Linked DNA regions of Homo sapiens: region 2 is linked to region 1. A link means that fine-mapping ties the variant in region 1 to the expression of a gene that starts in the linked region. Tissue or cell type: esophagus muscle. Region 1 holds a variant in brackets; the other region holds the start of a gene. All regions are shown on one strand. Distances are from middle to middle.

The links. PIP is the estimated chance that this variant, and not a neighbour inherited with it, causes the effect.
Region 2: POLR1A starts here. The variant in region 1 is fine-mapped to the expression of POLR1A in esophagus muscle (GTEx, PIP 0.98).

What each region holds. Positions count from the first base shown.
Region 1 is chr2:86,122,615-86,132,315 of GRCh38, forward strand. PTCD3 (pentatricopeptide repeat domain 3) reads left to right here. Exons shown (of 24, transcript NM_017952.6): 9 at 1,087-1,148; 10 at 2,381-2,468; 11 at 2,841-2,901; 12 at 3,181-3,266; 13 at 4,547-4,691; 14 at 5,327-5,377; 15 at 8,034-8,123; 16 at 8,464-8,492. Among named protein-coding and RNA genes, the nearest start is that of SNORD94, 8.4 kb to the right of the region's middle. The variant T/C (reference allele first, on the strand shown) is at 4,967.
Region 2 is chr2:86,100,943-86,112,771 of GRCh38, forward strand. POLR1A (RNA polymerase I subunit A) reads right to left here and starts at 4,944. Exons shown (of 34, transcript NM_015425.6): 1 at 4,758-4,944. The coding sequence starts at 4,834. PTCD3 (pentatricopeptide repeat domain 3) reads left to right here and starts at 5,293. Exons shown (of 24, transcript NM_017952.6): 1 at 5,293-5,409; 2 at 7,408-7,460; 3 at 7,558-7,594; 4 at 10,171-10,216. The coding sequence starts at 5,306. LOC124907852 (a long non-coding RNA gene) reads left to right here. Exons shown (of 2, transcript XR_007087121.1): 2 at 263-379. RefSeq lists enhancers at 4,464-4,553, 4,754-4,963, 5,344-5,603.

The sequences.
Region 1 (9,701 bases):
TCTTGCTGTAGTGCCCAGGATGGTGTCTTCAACTCTGGGGCTCAGGTGATCCTTCAGTCTCCTAAAGTTTTGGGATTACTGACCACTGCACCTGGCCAAATGTGGATTATTTATGTAGAGAACTTTACATTTTTAAAAGTGCATAGGCAGTAGGTTGCAGTTAAACCTTGCTTTCCAGAGTATCACTTCCTGAAGCCCTGCTCTGGTTGGCCCTCTGCCTCTCCAGCCCCAGCTCTTGAGGCAGCAGGCTACAGAGCCAACACTGACCTCTGCAATGCCAACCAAGCCTGTATTGCTCTACGTCAGCCTCATCCCAGACCTTGGTTTATAAATAAAGACAAGATTTATTCTTGTAAGAAGTCTTGCCAGGTGCAGTGGCTCATACTTGTAATCCCAGCACTTTGGGAGGCCGAGGCGGGTGGATCATGAGGTCAGGAGATCGAGACCATCCTGGCTAACATGGTGAAATCCCGTCCCTACTAAAAAAAATACAAAAAATTAGCTGGGCGTGGTGGCACGCGCCTGTAGTCCCAGCTACTCCGGAGGCTGAGGCAGGAGAATTCCTTGAACCCAGGAGGTGGAGGTTGCAGTGAGCCAAGACCACGCCACTGCATTCCAACCTGGGCGAGAGAGCGAGACTCTGTCTTAAAAAAAAAAAAAAAAAGAAGTCTTAGTTTGCTTGGGTGAGTGTTAGGCATTAACTATATGTTGTTTATCTTGCTTTCACCCTAATTATGACAGTTTATCTGTATGGATCAAGCCAGATGTAGTCTCTGAGCAAATAGGCTGTGTTGTTTGGTTTTCCTCTTTCTGTCTGAGGACCAGGCCATACAGGGAACTGGCTTCATCTTGTCTCCACGCTGTCACTTGTTGCTTTGAGAGTCAACTTGGCCTTTCATCTGATTTGCACTTAAGAAATTAACTGTATAGGTGTAAGCGTAACTGGGCTTCCTCTTTGCCTTCTGCTGGATCTATGTTTCCTTTATTTTTCTGAGTTCCCTTTGCCTTTCTGATTTTGAGTAGTCTGACTGGGAAATGCATTCCATTGCCTTAACTTTTATTTCTTTTGATGATTATTCATTTCAGGAAGAGGAAAATGATGAGACATCTAGGAGGAAAGCTGGTCATCAGTTTGGAGTTACATGGCGGTATGTCACACGTAATTAGAACCTTGAATTACAGTGTCTTACAGTGCATGGAATATGCCCCATCACCCTGTGAAGATGTTTTCTTGTGATGTTCTAAAATAATTGATTTTTATTGTGCAATATAAATTTCACTATTTGTATTCATACACATTTAGACCGTTTTTCAATAAGGTCTTTATCTCCATTCAACAACACAAGAATCTGTTGAGACTTTGACCCTTTTTTTTCCCTCATCTGTTTAACTCAGCATAACTTTCATATGGTATGGTTCCTTTGGTAGTTTCATTAACAGTGCTACCTTGGAATATATACCTCTAATTCTGAAAGATTTAATACTTTTGTTTACTAAAAATATCATGGACACTAGAGTGTACTGCTAAATTAAGACCACTGACAACATGTAGACATACACAGCAGTTTGAATGAAAGGTAATAACTTAATTATATTGGAGAATTAGCTGGGTGTCTAAAAGGAAGACACTTCATGTGAATGTCTGGAGAGGGAAAGCTACCATGATTATCTAAAATTGTTATTGAAGTGATGAATTTGATAGGATGAAAGATTAAATTCCTTGGGGTAGGCTGGACGCAGTGCCTCACACCTGTAATCCTGGTGCCGTGGGAGGCCGAGGCAGGTGGATCACTTGAGGTCAGGGGTTTGAGACCAGCCTGGCCAACATGGTGAAACCTCATCTCTACTAAAAATACAACAATTAGCTAGGCGTGGTGGCACGTGCCTGTAATTCCAGCTACTCGAGAGGTGGAGGCAGGAGAATCACTTAAACCCAGGAGGTGGAGGTTATGGAATGAGAGAAGAGTTAAAAGTACATATGCTAGAATATGACCAGAAGGATCCAAAAGAAACCGTTTTGCCTCTGGGAAGTAGTATCTGAAGATTGAAGAAAGGTGAGGAAACTTTACTAGGGACTTTGTCATACAGTTGCTTCTTGTTTTTAATAGCACAGATATTTATATACTTGTTTATAAACTTTTCATTTTCAATTGTAATTCTGCCACTTAACCTGCGAAGCCCTGACAACACATTAAGATCGTTAAGTCTTGATTTTCCCCATTTTCAAAATGATAATAACCATAATACCCTGTAAGAATTGAGATAATGTATAGAAAGTACTTGGCACATTGCCTAGAACATAATAAACCGTCAGTAAATGGTGGTAGCTCTCATTGGTATTTCTTATTGCCTGGGTTCACATTTACTCTCTTGTGTCTAGAGCAAAAAACAACGCTGAGAGAATCTTTTCTCTAATGCCAGAGAAAAATGAACATTCCTATTGCACAATGATCCGAGGAATGGTGAAGGTACATTTGTTTTATTTATTTTTGTCTTTCATTTCCACCGATCAGGGTGTTTCAGCCTCAGAACTACTAACATTTTGGGTCAGGTAATTTGTTGTGGGGTCTGTCCTGTGCATTGTAGGATGTTAGTAGCTCCCTGGCTTCTACCCACTGGATGTGAGTAGTGTACTCCTCCCCCACTTTCAGTTGTGACAAATAAAAATATGTTTAGGCATTACCAGTGGATAGAAAATCCCACTGCACTAGAGTATGAGCTTCATGAGAACAGGAGCCTGATCTATTGAGCCTGAGCTATATTACCAAACTCTAGGACAGAAATGTGCAAGGACTTCTTAAGTAAATGAATTTGATGATGCTTAATTTTTCCTTTTCCAGCACCGAGCTTATGAGCAGGCATTAAACTTGTACACTGAGTTACTAAACAACAGACTCCATGGTGAGTTTGAGAACTCCCCTCTGTCCCTTTCTCCATTTCCTTCTTTTAATTGTCTGTGTGAAGGCTTTGGATCGTGCCTCAGTCATTGGCCTACACTTTACCTTTTCCTGAGGCGTAGATGATTGAAGCAAGAGTAGAGATCCAGAGAGGAGAGTAGTTTTCCAGTTTTGTGGACATGTGATTAGTCAAGGGACACATAGGAATGACTGCTTTGCCTTAAACTCAGCCATTTAGGGATTAATCTTCAACCCCAAATTTTATCATTTTATTATTTTACAGCTGATGTATACACATTTAATGCATTGATTGAAGCAACAGTATGTGCGATAAATGAGAAATTTGAGGAAAAATGGAGTAAAATACTGGTAAGGAGGAATCCTCAGTTTATTTTTTAATAGGGCTTAAATACTCTTTACCAGAAATACATGGGCTGGCCAGGTGTGGTGGCTCAAACCTGTAATACCAGCACTTTGGGAGGCCGAGGCGGGCAGATCACCTGAGGCCAGGAGTTGGAGACCAGCCTGGCCAACATGGTGAAACCCGTCTCTACTAAAAGTACAAACAATTAGCTGGGCGTGGTGGTGCACGCCTGTAATCCCAGCTACTTGGGAAGCTGAGGCAAGAGAATCTATTGAACCCGGGAGGCGGAGGTTGCTGTGAGCAGAGATCGCACCACTGCACTCCAGCCTGGGCAACAGAGCAAGACTCCGTCTCAAAAAAAAAAAAAAGAAAAAGAAACAGAAGTACATGGGCTGGAGACAGCATTTATGAGCATGTGTATGGCAGTCACTGTGTAGCAGTTACCTGTTCACTACCCTTTCCGCAGCCCTGGGACTCAGCTGTGTCTGGCACATAAGAAGAAAAAGTTGCTTGACCGAGAGTATAGAGCTAGAATTCTGGACCATTTTATTCATTTATTTTTCATAATAGTTTTTCTGTTACAAAGTAATGCATATTTGCTGTCAAATCCTATCAGGTGTAATTTCAAAAAGTTGAAATCACTGGATTGATTCTCGCCTAGTAACTTAAGAATAGAAACGGCTGGGCACGGTGGCTCATGCCTATAATCCCAGCACTTTGAGGCTGAGGCGGGTGGATTACCTTAGGTCAGGAGTTTGTGACCAGCCTGACTAACATGGTGAAACCCCGTCTCTACTACAAAAATACAAAAATTAGCCGGGCATAGTGGTGCTCGCCTGTAGTCGCAGCTACTCAGGAGGCTGAGGCAGGAGAATCACCTCAGCCCACGAGGCAGAGGTTGCAGTGAGCCAAGATCGCACCACTGCACTCCAGCCTGGGCAAGAAGAGCGAAACTTTGTCTCAAAAAAAAAAAAAAACCAACCACTTTTTTATATCATACTAGTCTATTATTTTTGCGTCTTTTCTTGGAAAACTCTCCTAGGTAGAAGACTGAAGACAGTTGACCACCTCTATCAAGTGGGGTGGGTGTTTGAATTAGCAGGCTTCTTTAAAAGGCAGAATCATGGAACCTGCTAATTAATAAACAGTTCTTAAAAGAGGGATATAGTTACTAACCTGCTTTAAACATAAGCAAGAAAGCTAAATTCTTTACTTTGTATGAAACATAGATTATTGGACAGATTACCCAGGCATGAAAGATACTTCTTGTTTTTTATTCACCTAGGAGCTGCTAAGACACATGGTTGCACAGAAGGTGAAACCAAATCTTCAGACTTTTAATACCATTCTGAAATGTCTCCGAAGATTTCATGTGTTTGCAAGATCGCCAGCCTTACAGGTTTTACGTGAAATGAAAGCCATTGGAATAGGTGAGGATGCGCCCTTGAGTTCTCTGAGGACAGAGACTGTGCCAGCCAGAGGTTTCAGGGCTACATAAGCAAAGAGCTTTAAATTATTCTTGTGCTTACATAATATGTTGGAAATTTTCTTTCCATGTTTGGCACATTTACTTACATGTACTTATTATAGTGGGAGTGCCTTTATCATCTTAGTGTTCATTAGTATTTTAGGTACTTTGTTTATGGATCTGTTGAATCTGAGGAGAAGTGATTGCTTTGAGTTAGCTAGTTTTAAATTCATGACA[T/C]TTTCCCAACATAATTAGGTATTTGAACCTAAGTGTGTGCTAGTGTATTGTATATTTTTCATTAATTACTTTATTGAAAGTTGCTTTGGGAATCAATTCACTTCAATATATTTTACTGTTCTCAGTGAAGAATGTGACTAATAAGTATTTGGACTTTCAAAAAGTGATACAGTCTTTGTGATAGTTTTTTACCTTTACATTAATGAGTTGGAAAATAACTTTGTTCAAAGGAATAGAAATGCATATTTTGCTTAAATATTAACAATATGTTTTTAATTCAGTGTGTCTCAGTAAACTATGTTTTGGATTGCTGTGTTTTTACCTCATTGTTTATTTTTTCTGTCTACCTGGTAATTTGAGAACCCTCGCTTGCAACATATCACCATATTATTCGCCTGTTTGATCAACCTGGTATGTATGGCCTTAAATTGTGTTAATTTATATAGAAAATTGACCAGCTTTCTTGAGTTTATGTGATTAATTGTTGTAGTTATCTTCTCTGCATATGAATTAAGAAGAGAGAATTTGTAAATTAACCTGTACAGCCTGAGCAGAAAGTTGTGGTTTTTTTAGATACAGGATCTTGCCCATTGCAGCCTTGAACTCCTGGGCTCAAACAGTCCTCCCTCCTCAGCCTCCTGAGTAGTTAGGATTACAGATGCCCACCAGCATGCCTAGCTGATTTTTTTTTTTTTTTTTTGGACAGGGTCTTACTACCTAAAATTATTCTTGAGGGTAGCAATCTTGTTTGTGGTCTAAAACTTGAGCTGGAGGGGAGAGGGTTATGGATTGTACTGGCAGTGATGTTGTACAAACAGGAATTGGGTAGAATATATTTTGGTTGAAATTCCTTTTGTTCTCTGGAGCTGTGCTATTTAACACCATAGCCACTAGCCACATGTGGCCAGTTAATTAAAATTAAGTAAAATAATAAATTATTTTGTCACATTGGTGCTCAGTAGCCATGTGTCTAGTGGCTACCATGTGTCGTGATGCAGATTCAGAACATTTCCATCTTTGCCAAAAGTTTGTGGACGTTTCTGCTCCAGAGGAAAGGTAAACTTATTGTGAAGCGTTTTGGGAGGACCTCAAGGCTCCATGCGTTGTCCACTTTTAGGTCAGTTCCAGTGGGAGCTCTGCTCTGTAGTAGATGGACTTTGAAGAGAGACACACCTGAGCTGAGATGTCCACTCTACCATTTATTTACCAGCTATGTCAAAGCGACTAGATACCTACCTGAGGAATAGCAGCAGGGTGTGGTAGTTAAATGAGTTCCACACTGTGTCTGCTACTGTGCTTGGAGGGCACATATGAGGCACTCAAAATCTTTTGGTTCTTGTCCATTATCCCCAGCCTGAGAAATAACCCTTGAGTTCAGAATTGACAGTTCTAGTCATTCTTTCTTGTGGATAGACTATAAAAATTACAGAAGGGAAGTTGTTTCTCTCTGGTTTGGAGGACTAATTTTGTAAAATCCATATCCTCACCTGTATAGGCAAATTTTATCTTTAGGAAAAGGAACCAGTTAATTGACTATACCTTGGAAACAGGTAAACAGTTTCCATAATTGTGTCCCCTAAAATTTTACTCAACCTTGGTGAGATTGTGATGGAGCTAGTATTTCTGACTCCAAAGTATATTCCTTTCCTCTGTAACTCTCATCACTGGTTCAATTGCTAATCAAAGTCAGATGTACTTACATTTCCTAAGTAACAGCCAGGACTGGGGGATGGGGGTTCTGGGGGAGCTGTGTTGGTTTGTCTTATGTATATAAATTTGCCTGTCTGCAGCAGTAGTTTTGGCTTACGCCTGTAATCCCAGCAATTTAGGAAGCCAAGGCAGGAGGATTGCTTGAGCCCAGGAGTTTGAAACCAACATAGAGAGACCTCCATGTCTACTAAACATGAAAAAAGTAGCTGGGCATGGTGGCGCACCCCTGTAGTCCCAGCTACTCAGGAGTGTGAGGCAGGAGGATTGCTTGTGGCCAGGAGGTTGAAGCTGCAGTAAGCTGCGTTTGCCCCACTGCACTCCAGCCTAGGTGACAGAGCAAGACCCTGTCTCAATAGTAATAATAATTTCTAGGAATTTACCCAAAAGAGAGAGCCTAAAATAACCTAGAAACAATACATTGAAAAGAGAATATTATGTAACTAATAAAATTAAGAATATTAGCAAAGGGAAGCATGCTTGAGTAAATTGTGAAACTCTATCTGTACTGTCATTACAGCTTTACTACCACAAACATACAAAACAGGTAGGGAAAGGAGTGTAGAGAAATATTTGACTGGGAATATTGCAGATGATTTTCTGACCTATTAGTGCTCAGTTCATGTTATATTTAAGAACTGCCCTGTCCATTAATTCTAGTTTACTTTTTCTTGACCTCATTCTGATTATATTTAAAGGGAACACAAATGATTACTAGCAAAAAACATTTTTAGCCGGGTGCAGTGGCTCATGCCTGTAGTCCCAGCACTTTGGGAGGCCGAGGCGGGCAGATCACGAGGTCAGGAGTTCAAGACCAGCCTGACCAACATGGGGAAACCCCTCCTCTACTAAAAATACAAAAAATTAGCCAGGCGTGGTGGCGAGGGCGTTAGTCCCAGCTGCTCGGAAGGCTGAGGCAGGAGAATCGCTTGAACCCGGGAGGCGGAGGTTGCAGTGAGCCGAGATTGTGCCATCGCACTCCAGCCAGGGCAATAATGCAAGACTCCATCTCAAAAAAAAAAAAATTTTGTTTTTCTAAGTATGCTGGTTTGGTGAGGGAGTGTGTGTTACTGTCTGCCGCCTACTTCAGTAAGTCAGGCTTCATGTGAAGAGACTAAAGGAAGGAGAAAGTCTCAGTGGAGCACATGAACAGAGACCTGTGATTATTCCAGATTTTACAGAGAATTGCTCTCTGCAGGGTATAGTGGTTCCTTTAGCAAGCATTGGCCTCCACCCAGATCTATGCGAGGACTTAGGCTGGAGGTGGAGGAAGGAGAAATGTGTCCCTTTGTATTAGGTACAGTGAGTTTGGTGGTGGTAAAGGAAGTGGATTAAACACATTTGCTTTCTTGTTCTGCAGGAGACCCTTTAAAGAGATCATCCTTCATCATTTATGATATAATGAATGAATTAATGGGAAAGAGATTTTCTCCAAAGGACCCGGATGATGGCATGTATAGAAATCACTTGTGTTTTCCTCCTCTAAAGACAGAGGGCCGGTTTACCTGAGTACCAGTTAGAGGCCTTGTGATCCCTATAGCTTAGAAGTATTTTTTTTTTTTTTTAAATAAATTTGAGTACATAGTAGGTGTATATAGCTTAGTAATATTTGCCATGGTCTTTCTGAGAAAGCCAAAATTGTGGTACATTCCTGCCTCTCTTAAGTTTTTATGTTCTTAGCTTTATCTTGCATGTTACCAGTTTTGTTGGCAGGATTTTTGTTAATGTTACTGACTTGAAAATATATTTTATCCATTGTAACCAAAGCTCTTGTGAACTTTGATTTTCAGATAAGTTTTTTCAGTCAGCCATGAGCATAGTAAGTATCATTTCTTTATTAATTTGCTATCCATTTCCTAAATTTATCTGTAACTGGAGGGTTCTCCCTGGTTCTTTTCACTTTCTAACTCTTCTGTTCATGTCTTTGCTTCTGTTTTTTCTTCTTTCTCTAAAATCTATAATTTTTTTTTTCTTTGAGATGGAGGTTCACTGTGTCCCCCATGCTGGAGTGCAGTGGCTCACCGCAACCTCTGCCTCCTGGGTTCAAGCGATTCTCCTGCCTCAGCCTCCCGAATAGCTGGGACTACAGGTGTGCGCCACCACACCTGGCTAATTTTTGTATTTTTTGTGGTAGAGATGTAGTTTCACCATGTTGACCAGACTGGTCTTGAACTCCTGACCACCTCCCAAAGTGCTGGGATTACAGGCCTGAGCCAACGCGCCTGGCCTAAAATCTGTACTTTTCAATCACATACTATCCCTACCCTTTGTTTATTGTTTACATTGACATTTTTCATGCCCCTGAACAGATAAGCTTCCATAATATTTCAGATTTGCCTATTAGTAAGTTAAAATTGATAATGGTTTTTATTTTAGTTTATGTAATCATGCTTATCATAGGAAAAATTTCAGGCAGTTTTAGGATGAACCTTGTTCCCTAAGGGTAATTTAATTGCTTTACTATTAGATTGGTGCAAAAGTAATTGTGGCCTTTGCCATTACTTTCCATGGCAAAAACCGCAATTACAAAAGCCGCTACTTTCAATAGCAAAAACCACAATTACTTTTGCACCAACCTAGTATTTAGTATGGATCCTCACAAGGTTTTTACTCTGGGTACTCAAGCGTATGTATATCCAGGCATACTTTCAGGGTGTTTTATTTGTTGGCAGCAACCAGTATTTCATAGTAAGAACCATAACTTAACTTTCCTGTGGGTAGATTTTGGAGTTATTTCATGGAGATTTTTACTAGTCCAGACTCTGCAGTGCAGGTGTCTTTTGTGCACTTGACCAGGTGTTGTTACAGGATTAATTTTTAATGGTATAATTGCTTAATTAAAATAATATTGTAATAAATTTCACAGAACTTGGGATTTGTCTCCCCCCCATTTCTTATAACTTACTTGCTGTCAACCAATAATATGTTGAATCAACATTATTTTCACAAGACACTCTACTGTTGTTATTTATTTGTGAACCACTGGCTGACAGGGTATCAGAGTGATACTTACTACTTGCATATTTTC
Region 2 (11,829 bases), 21 kb before region 1:
GTGACACAAATACAAACAGAATGTGGGGGAGGCAGGATATGGAATAGACTTAACTCCAAAGCCCACCCAGTTCAATGAAGGGAATGTGATGCAACAATCCCTGTATGCAGAAATAGTAAATTTGACAACATTAAACACATTTAGTCAAACCTTAAAAAAGGTTTCATCACATTTTATGTTTGGTTTGAAAGGTGCTCCCATAGGACACAACTATGTTTAGTAGGCTAACTTTGCTTTTACAATTTTCTCCTTTCTGATTTAGAAAATAAAGACAAAGAAACCATCCCAATCTGACAGCCTAGAGGAAATCCGAAGGCTGAAACGAGAGTCCCCTAATGATGTAAACACTCCCTTTAATAAAGCACAAAAATAGTGTCAAGTTTTCATGAGTGGTGACATGTTCTGAGTGTAAAACAATGTTAGTCTATCAGGAACTAAGCTGCTCAGCTCTAGAAGATTCTATGTTGCATGGCCAGTGTCACTCTAAGGGCCAAGGCGACAGGGAGGCAGATCTGCTGCTGTGGCTCTTGTCTATATGGTCACCTTGCTGCCAGTAAGCTAATTTCATGAGAAACTTGATCTAACTCAAAAGTTGTGCGTGTGGTCTCTTCCCACAAATCTAGAGTCCACCTGCAACCCTGAACTGGGTAACATTGAACAAATTACTTACCTTTTGTTCTTTAATCTTAATTTTTGAAACTGTAATAAAATATATATAAATTCATCATAACTGTTTCAATTAGTACAGTTCAGTGGTATTAAGTACATTTGCATTGTGCTACCATCACCACTCTCCATCTGCAGAACCCTTTTTCATCTTGTAAAATTGAAACCCTGTACCCATTATACAGTAATTCTTCATCTCCTCTGCTACCATCATTTTACTTTCTGTTTTGATTAATCTGACTACTCTAGGTACCTTATATTAAGTGGAATCACACCGTACTTGTCCTTTTGTGACTGGCTTATTTCACTTAGCACCGTGCCCTCAAGGTTCATCCATGTTATAGGATGTGTTGAACTTTTTTCCTTTTTTAGGGCTGAACAATATCCCATTGCATGTATATACCACATTTTATGTATCAACCCATCCATTGATAGACACTTGGGTAGTTTCCACTTTTTCACTATTGTGAATAATGCTGCTATGAACATAGGTATACAAATATCTCTTTGAGACCCTACTTTCAATTCCTTGGATACACATCCAGAAGTAGAATTGCTGGATCACATGGTAATTTTGTCTTTAGTTTTTTGAGAATCCACCCTACTGTTTTCCATAGTGGTTGCACCATTTTACATTCACACTAATGGTGTACAAAAAGCTTCCACTTTCTCCACACCCTTGCCAACACTTACTACTTTCTGTTTTTCTGATAGTAGCACCCTACTGGATTTGAGGAGCTTTTTATTTGCATTTCCCTAAAATTGGTGATGTTCAACATCTTTTCACATACTCACTGGCCATCTGTATGTCTTCTTTGGAAAAATGTCTGTTTAAGTCCTTTGTCCATTTTAAAATTGAATTTTGTGTTGTTGTTGAGTTGTAGGAGTTCTTTTTATGTTCTAGATATCAATCTCTCATCAGATATATAATTTACAAATATTTTCCCCCATTCCATGGGTTGCCCTTTCACTCTGCTGACTGTATCCTTTGATAACTACCTAATTTTTTTCTCACCTGAAGTCTGGGCATCACAGCAGCTCTATTGGGATGATTAGAAGATAACATACAGAAAATACAGTGTCAAACAAAGTTCCTCTCTCTTTGTAGAGGAGAAAGTCCCTCCCACCATTACAGGAGTGGGATGAAGAGTAGGGGCAACTAGCAAGGATTCCACCAGTCAGTAGAGTTTGAGATCAATAGACTTAGGTTTGAAGATGACCTTTGCCACTTCCTAGAGAGACATTTTGTTCTCTGGGCCTGAATTTTTTACTGGAGGTGCCACCACAAATGGTGTTGTTAAGAACTGAGAATGGGTGTCGTTAAGGACTGAAAGTGCCAAGCACTGAGCAGCTAGCTCCTCTATCCATCTATTCATACACTCAACAAATACCCAGAGTGCTCACTGTGTGCCAGACAGTGTTAAGTGCTAAGGAAACAGACAAGAACTGCTATGCTTACAGGCCTTACATTCTATTGGAGGAACGGGAACAGACACAAAATGTATAGTCTGTTAGACGGCAGAAAGGGCTATGACGAAAAATAATGCAGGGAAAGGGAAGAGCAGAGTAGGCAAGTGGTCCTAGAAGCCCACTAAGGAGGAACTTGGGCAAAGGCTGAAGGAGTTGAGGGAGCAGGCCATACAGTCACCTGGGCAGAGGGTTTTACAGGAGGAAGAAGCAGGGAGTGCAAAGGTCCTGAGGTGGATGTGTGCCCGTGGTGCTCTGGATGCAGCAAGGAGGTCAGGGTAGCCAGAATAGAGGTGAGATCAGAGAGGTAACAGGAGACTGAAATGACCCCTCCAGGCCATTTGTAAAGACTTGGTTTTTACTCTGAGTGAGATGGGAAGCTATTAGAACCTGGCACAATAAAAGGTGGCAGTATTATTGAAATGTCTCAACTCTAAACTTGTTTGAAAACTCCACAATTATCTTTTTAAAAATTCAGGCAACTTAAAACACTTCTGCTTTTGGATGAAATCGTATCCACTTATGGCAGTGATGATATAATTGGAATTTCTGGGCTAGCACACTGTTACCAATGATACCAGAGCTGTGGCTCAGGAGTTTATTCATCCATTTATTCAGACTTGAGGATAAAAGACAAGAGTGACACATATAAGAAGCTCAAGGATAGTGGAGGAAGACAAATATACATAAGCACAAAAAGTCACTAAAGCACCATGACAGACAACTGTATCATGTGCAAAATGACCTCACAAAACAAGGGAGGTGAACTGAGCTTTCAGGTGTGTATGTTGGGTAGGGGACAGAGGGAAGTACCTCCTTTTGGCTGAAAGGACACTGCATGCAGAGGGAATAGCTTAAAGAAAGGCCCAGATGTTGAAATATGATGGCGGTTTCTGGAATATGCAGGTGGTTTAATAGGGCTGAAGAAGGGATGATGTTATAGCTAAAATCAGCATTGGTCTGATCATGGGAGACTTTGCAGGCTATGCTAAGAAAATATACTTTATCTGAGGGAAATGGAGAACATTTGGAGGGTTTTAAGGGTGACAGTAGCATGACTACATTTGCACTTTGCAAGAATAATTTTGACAGCAGTGTGGAGCATGCACTTGAGAGGTGTAAGGGGAGGGTGGAAGGAAAAGACAATTCAAATATGAGATAAGGGCCAGAGGCAACACAGTAGCAATTGGGAGAAAAAGGAGACTAAGAACAAATAGACATGTAGGTGACACAAAGTAAGAGCCCAATAAATAAGTTATATGTCAGGAGAGATCTAGAATAATTTTCCAGTTTCTAGTGACTATTTTGCACTACGTACACCATTTTGGAGGGGTAAGTAACCCCTCCCTTTGAAGAGGGATGCCGTGTTGAGTTTTTTTTTTTTTTTTTTTGAGACAGAGTATTGCTCTGTCGCCAGGCTGGAGTGCAGTGGCACAATCTCGGCTCACTGCAACCTCCGCCTCCTGGGTTCAAGCGATTCTCCTGCCTCAGCCTCCCGAGTAACTGGGACTACAGGTGCCCGCCACCACGCCCAGCTAATTTTTGTATTTTTAGTAGAGACGGGGTTTCACCATGTTGGCCAGGGATGGTCTCGATCTCCCGACCTCGTGATCCGCCGGCCTCGGCCTCCCAAAGTGCTGGGATTACAGGCGTGAGCCACCGTGCCCGGCCATGTTGAGTTTCTGATATGCATTTAGGCCATGTTGAGTTTTTGATATGCATTTAAGATCTCTGTGTGAAATTCAATTAAAGATGTACAGACAGCTGAACAAATGGGTCTGAAAATCAGGGAAATAAATTTGCGTTGGGGATTTAAATTTGAGACTATAAATCATGAAAGTGGTGAGATTGTCTAGGGACAATATTTACCATGAAGAAAACATTACTAGAATAGAATCTTGAAGAACATCAACATTTAAGGAGTAAAATGAGGTACAGACCTTGCTCACCAATGTGTCATTAACGCCTAGCTTGGTGCCTGGAAAAAACTGGATGCTCAATAAATGTTTGTGAGGTTATAGATCGATAGAGGAAGAGAGGGAGGTAGAAGTATTTGTCATAAAAATAGGAGAACTTGAAGACAAATAAGGTTCTGGAAGAAAGGAAAGTTTCAAGAGAGTGCATTGGAGAATGTCAAATGCTACCTTGATCAAAATGAAGACTAAAGAGAGTTCCCTTGATTTAACAACCAGACCGAGAATATAGCAGGGTCCTAGCAAAGAGAAGTTAACGCCTGAACTGACACTTGAAGGACAATCATTTTACAAACAAGAGGAAACTTACTACGTGCCTAATTAACCATGTCAGGTACACTATGGTTAATTCCACAAATGCTTGTTAGTTAACGAGGAGACTGGCAGATGATAACGCTGCAGACCAGGACCCTCCCCACCCTTATATTCCCCTACCTCAGCGCAAACTCTTTCCCCCAGCACCACCGGCCTCTTATCCAGGCAGTCCACGCCGGCCCAGGAACGTTCCCAGAACTACGGCTCCCAGCAGGACAAGCGCCAGACAAGCCTGGACTCAAGAGGATAGACTGGGCAAAAGCGCTTCTGGGAATCGTAGTTTAGGGCGCCGACCTCAAGATCCAGGCTGGGCACGCTACCCGACCAACTCCTTACTTGAGCTCTTCAGCCGAATACATCCCGAAGGAAATGCCCTGCAGCCGCCGCCAGGGCATGTTCTTGGAGATCAACATCCTCCAGGTCCGTTTTGAATTCCGACACCCCAAGAGACGTTCCACTCACCACCTGACTATTCTTAATTCAACCTCAAGCCCGGAGTCACCACGCGATTCAACGTGCGCTTGCGCGCGGAAGCGGTCGCAGGAACGACATTTACGTGGATGAGATCACTTCTACATGGGGGGGGAACAAATAGTTGTACGACTCTCTGCTCGCTCTTTTGTTTTGAAAACAATCAAAGATATATAAGACATCAAAATAATCATTTAGGAAAATTCCTCCGAGGCAAATCGGGTGTATAGAGCTTTTAGCTTCCGTGACGAAGTCTTTCAAACCATGAGCTTGCAACCTCCCATTTTATGATTGCTTTCGTCTTCTTCCGCTTCAGCCAATAGCGGAGCTGTTCCCTGCTCCCCGCCCACTGCGCCCCACCTTCCTGAAGGTCGAGGCACGCTTTCCCAACATGCTCTGCAGAGAAATCAAAGATGGCGGTTGTATCTGCTGTTCGCTGGCTGGGCCTCCGCAGCAGGCTTGGCCAGCCGCTGACGGGTCGGCGGGCGGGTTTGTGTGAACAGGCACGCAGCTGCAGGTAAGAGACGCTTAGGGTATCCGCGAAGAAGACCGCGGAGTCACCTTAGTCCTATGTTTCCCAGCTGGCTGTGGAAGTAGGCACGATGAAATGGTTTGCTCATGCGCGCCCTTAACGGTCGCGTGCCCTTAAGACCAGGTACGCGGAGGTGGCCCTTTGAAATAGGATTCGCAACGCATTTATTCATTAGAGAAATACTTATTGGTTGCTTGCAATATTCTGTAGTTAACACCATCCGCAAAGCTAGGACCCTGCTCTCATGAAGCTTGCGTTCCAGTGAGTGTGGCTATTAGCAACACTACCCCAAATTAAAAATTATCCGCCATTACTCATTTTAACCCAATCAGGAGGAGCGAGGAGAACGTACAAGATCTTCCCAAATAAAAGGCAGTCTCTGGTCGCCACCGTGGGGACTTTGGCTAAAGAAGTTATCAGGTTTTCGTAAAAGCAGAAAAGTCTAAAAGATCTGACTATGCCCTTTTGATCTGTGATAGTTATAGCTTGGAACATGTATGACCTATCTGTGTAATTTTTTTTTCACTCAGTACAAACAGTGGCATTGTGGGAATATGAGAGGCAGTAATTTGTAGTGAAAACTTGCTAAAAGCCTAATTTTAGGTTTAGTGTTTGCCATTCACTTAATTGGATGATAATAGACAGATTTCCTCATCTGCAGACTAGAGTTGGTAATAACCATCCGAAAAGTTTGTGAGGTATAAGTGGGGTATGTAATTTACAATATGTTTTTATATGTACTCTCCCTTAGTTCCCCTCAAGAAAGAGAAACCACTCCATCTGATACTGCAGAAACCTTTGTGCTGCCATTCAATGCCAGTCCTCCGTTTCCTGGTAGCCATCGTTAGCATTTTTCTACTCATTTTCTTTGCCTGAAGCAGAATCTCTTCCTCAGCATCCGTTCTCAAAATAACTGTGATCTCTGTTTTAAGGTCATGAGAAACAAATAGTGTGACTTGAAAGAGTTGATCTCAGAAACTTGAAAGAGTTGATCTCTTTCTGAAATGTCCTTAACGTAGAGGGGTATTCTTGTTTTAAATGATACCTGAAACCAGATACTACTGGAGGAAGTATCTGTCTGTGCAATCACATCTTGACAATTTTCTGAATGTTACTGATGCCATTTAGTAAGGGGAAACACAAGATAATACTAACCGTCACATTATCTGTGGTGTGTTGACTGTGTTTTTAGTGTGATCAGAACACTTAAACAGAACACTTAAAAACTCAGTCATGGGCCAATGATTCTATATTTTGGTTTAAAAAGGATTTCATATTGAACCTCTGAAAATAGAAAATATCAGCAATTCCAAGTCTAAATCAGGCCTTATGTATTTGGTACATTCTTGATTGTTGAAAGAAGTGGAATGAGAAGCCATGGGTCATCTTCCCTATGTTGTAATTGCTTTAAGTGAGGTAGTCCTTTCTGATCAGGGCAGTATCTGTATAGAAGCAAGAGCTCACTGAATTGTTCTTTTAAACATCATAGTGTTTTGGGTTCCTGAAGTTGAAAGTTCTTCATTTCAAACCAGATTGTTCAAGTGCTATTAAAAACTTTCCTCCCTCTCTGCCATTTATGTAATGAGATTGCTTGCTTCCAAAACTTTTGTCTAGCCGGGCATGGTGGCATATGCCTGTAGTCCTAGTTACTCAGGAGGCTGAAGCAGGAGGGTCACTTGAGCCCAGGAGTTCAAGGGTTCAGTGAGCTATAATTGCACTACTTCACTAAAGGCTAGGCAATGGAGCAAGACCCTGTCTCTAAAAAAAAAAAAAAAAAAGTTTTGACAGTCTTGTCCATATCTTGTATCCATTCCTTAATGATATTGAACATGTGTACAGACTGTCTTCTCAGCGTTCATTGACATGAGTTATCCAGTTTAATCCGTGATAATTGGAGAATTTGGGCTCAAAGTACACATAGGTGGAGGTGAGCTGGGTACTTCATTAATGACTATTAGATTTAAGGCTTTTGTTTTTTTGCAGATTTTATTCTGGTAGTGCAACCCTCTCAAAGGTTGAAGGAACTGATGTAACAGGTATATTTTAAAATATATTGAATTCTATTTTTATATCAACACGTTGGATTCCATTGTAGTACTAGGAAACTGATTCATGTTTTCTTTTTTACATTAGGGATTGAAGAAGTAGTAATTCCAAAAAAGAAAACTTGGTAAGTATTCTATCAGTGTTCATTCAGCAAATGGTTGAGTGCTTACTATGAGAGAAGTGTAAGGGTTAGGTAAGGAGACAGTGACAGGAAGAGCAATAGGAGAGCATTCTTGAAGAGAGTAGCTGAGCGGGGAGAAGCTAGGAGTTTAAAGGACAAAAAATGGAAAGGTGGAGAATAGTGAGTGAATGAGCAATGAGATTTACTTAAAAGAACAATTGAAAGAGATTTTGAATTAGTGTGGGTTACTATTTACGTGGTTAATAATACATGGTTATACATGAACATCATCATTAGAATAATTTTTTTCAAGGAAGTTCTCTCATATGATTCAAGAGCAGACAGTTACTGTCTTTATTATCTCTAATGAGGTAAAAATAAAGTAAATGGTGTGGACAGCAAAATTTAGCTTTTTTATTCACTGGATATATCCTTGAACAAATTGCCTCATCTCATTTATTCAACATTTGTTGAATATGCAGGAATTAAAACTTCACAAAAGTGCTTGTTACAGTGTAGTCCTATTGAACGCATTTAGTGGCCCCTCAAAAAGCTAGGTCTTAAAATTATGTGACCTAAAGACTCGGGTTCGCCAGGCGCGGTGGCTTACGCCTGTAATCCCAGCACTTTGGGAGGCCGAGGCGGGCGGATGATGAGGTCAGGAGATTGAGACCATCCTGGCTAACACGGTGAAACCCCGTCTCTACTAAAAATACAAAAAAATTAGCCGGATGTGGTGGGGGGTCGCCTGTAGTCCCAGCTACTCGGGAGGCTGAGGCAGGAGAATGGCGTGAACCCGGGAGACGGAGCTTGCAGTGAGCCGAGGTCGCGCCACTGCACTCCAGCCTGGGCGACAGAGCAAGACTCCATCTCAAAAAAAAAAAAAGACTTGGGTTCATTTAAAAAGACTTTTTTAAGAACTTTATTAATCTGAACTGTGTGATTATTTTAGGGAGGCCAGGGAGCCCAGTGATGTCAATGCATAGGTAACTGGGATCATAAAAGAAGTGCAAATTAAAACTTACCGTATTGGCAGAGAGAGGATTTGAAGAAATACGTTTGTTTATGGGACAGTAAATTGGAACAGCTCTTTGGAGGGAAATTTGGCAGAATCAGAATTGGAAATGTGCGTACCTTACTGGTTAGCCACTTTGGAGGAACATTTGCATATATACATGGACAAGACTGTTCTTTATTACTTGGGAATAGTAACAGGTTGAAACAGCCTGAATGCCCATTGAAAAGTGAATGGATAATTTTAAAAGGTTATCATACAATAACTTTTTACATTGAAAGGAATTAATTAGCTCTATATTTAATAACATGGATAGTGCAGCCAAACTTATGTAGACACATGCAGAATGACAGTGTGTATACGTTTTTTAGGGAGATGTTTATGTGTGAAAATACCTTTAAAAGTTCTGGAAATACAAATACCAAATTCATCGTGGAGAGGGGTCACAAGATGACACCAGACACTTTAGGTTAACGTGTAATGTTCTAGTTTATTTTTTTAAGATAATGTATGATACCTTTTAAAGTAACCCTTTAAAGAAAGAGAATTAGTGAGTAATCTGAATGTCATCATTTTTTCACTGCCATTTGTTCAATATGTTAGGAAAGTTTGCTAACTTGATAAGACTTAAATAGGGCAATAAAAGATCTGCTGAAGGAATGCTGACAGATGAGAGAATGTGTCGTTATCACACTTGCTGAAATTACATAAATGTGACTTCTAAACGTGGATAGAAAATTTAGTGGATATTATGTACATCAGGGAATTAGTTTTGATGAAATATAAAATTTCCTGTACTTTTGTTTTTCTCAGATGACTTATAGTCTTAAGAATGTTATGTTAAACTTTATTTAGAAAAATACTCTTGGTATAATTCCCTTTTGGAAAGGAAACACATTAAATCTAACATAGGAGCACAAATATATTTGAGATCAAATTATCTTGTCTGTCATTTATTCCAGTGAAGCCTTTTCTAATAGTTCAGTAAAGGTCTCTACTCAGAGGTGCAGTGGACAGCTGGCCTGCAATTCTTACCATAACGTTATATATGGTTGAGAGGTTCTAAACCAGGAGGTTGCATCAGAATTATCTGGGAATTCAGTAAGAGTGTGTGTGACAGTCCTCCATGGATCTTGGGAGGCTTTGATGCAATAGGTCCAGAGTGAAGCCTGTGGTTTATTCTCCTATAACTGAATCAAGAGCTACCAATTAGGATAGTAAAGGCAACAGTAGTCCCGAAAGCTGCAGTAAGAATCCATAGGAAAGTGGGTAGAGGAAGTAGGCCAGATAGTTTTATGAGGGCGGGATGGAAATCACTAGCCCTGGGTTATGGCATTATGCACCAGGCCAGAGAGGACAGGCAAAGAGAGGAACATGTACCAACTAGGGGAAAGAACCAGCAGTTTTCTTAATTTCTAATTTATTCTAGTGACCTTGTGACATAACCAGCTTCAGATGAGATCTGCACTATGTTATTGGCCAGTACACTGAGAGTAGAATCACTTGTTCGGTTTGTGGCTATGAAGAGCCCTGATGAGGATTAACTTGTGGTTCTTATTTTTAGGGATAAAGTAGCCGTTCTTCAGGCACTTGCATCCACAGTAAACAGGGTAAGTAGGATTTTGTGTTTTTTTTTAACCTAAAACTTGGCTAATAACACACTTTTTAACTCGGCTAATAACACATTTAATACTCATACCTCGTCATTACTCAGAATTAAACTGTTGTGCGTCTAGAAAGTTTCTTTAAAATTGTCTAGGCCGGGCGCGGTGGCTCACGCCTGTAATCCCAGCACTTTGGGAGGCCGAGGCAGGTGGATCACAAGGTCAGGAGATCGAGACCATCCTGGCTAACACAGTGAAACCCCGTCTCTACTGAAAATATAAAAAATTAGCCAGGCGTGGTGGCAGGCACCTGTAATCCCAGCTACTTGGGAGGCTGAGGCAGGAGAATGGCGTGAACCCAGGAGGCAGAGCTTGCAGTGAGGAGAGATCGCGCCACTGCACTCCAGCCTGGGCGAAAGAGCGAGACTCTGTCTCAAAAAAAAAAAAATTGTCTAATCCAGCTGAGCCAGGTGGCTCATGAATGTGATCCCAACACTTTTGGAGGCCAAAGTAGGAAGACCACTTGACATCAGGAGTTCAAAACCAGCTTGGGCAATGTAGCAAGACCCCCATCTGTTTTTTGTTTGTTTGTTTGTTTTGTTTTGTTTGAGACAGAGTTTTGCTCTTGTTGCCTTAGGCTGCAGTGCAATGGCGCGATCTCGGCTCACCGCAACCTCCACCTCCTGGGTTCAAGCAATTCTTCTGCCTCAGCCTCCTGAGTAGCTGGGATTACAGGCATGTGCCACCACGCCCAACTAATTTTGTATTTTAAGTAGAGACGGGGTTTCTCCATGTTGGTCAGGCTGGTCTCGAACTCCTGACCTCAGGTGATCCACTTGCCTTGGCCTCCCAAAGTGCTGGGATTACAGGTGTGAGCCACTGCGCCAAACTTTTTTTTTTTTTTTTTTTTAATTTATTTTTTGAGACGGAGTCTTGCTGTGTCGCCCAGGCTGAAGTGCAGTGGCACAGTCCCGGCTCACTGCAAGCTCTGCCTCCCAGGTTCATGCCATTCTCCTGTCTCAGCCTCCCGAGTAGCTGGGACTACAGGCGCCCGCCGCCACGCCTGGCTATTTTTTTGTATTTTTAGTAGAGACGGGGTTTCGCTGTGCTCACCAGGATGGTCTCCATCTCCTGACCTCCTGATCCACCCGCCTTGGCCTCCCAAAGTGCTGGGATTACAGATGTGAGCCACAGTGCCCGGCCTTTTTTTTTTTTTTTTAAGAATAAAATTATTGGCCAGGAGCAGTGGCTCACATCTGTAATCCCATCACTAATCCCATCACTTTGGGAGACCGAGGGAGGCTGATTGCTTGAGGTCAGGAGTTCGATACCAGCATGGTGAACATGGTGAAACCCTGTCTCTACCAAAACAACAAAAACAAAAATTACGAGGCATGGTGGCACCTGTAGTCCTACCTATTCAGGAGGCTGAGGCAAGAGAATCTCTTGAACCTGGGAGGCAGAAGTTGCAGTGAGCCAAGGTCCTGCCACTGCATTCCAGCCTGGGTGAGTTAGTGAGACTCTGTCTCAAAAAAAAAAAAAAAAAAAAAAATTTAAAATAAAATTATCAAATCCCTTTATTTGGCAAAGGAGGAAGCTAAGGTTTTGAAAGTGGCCAG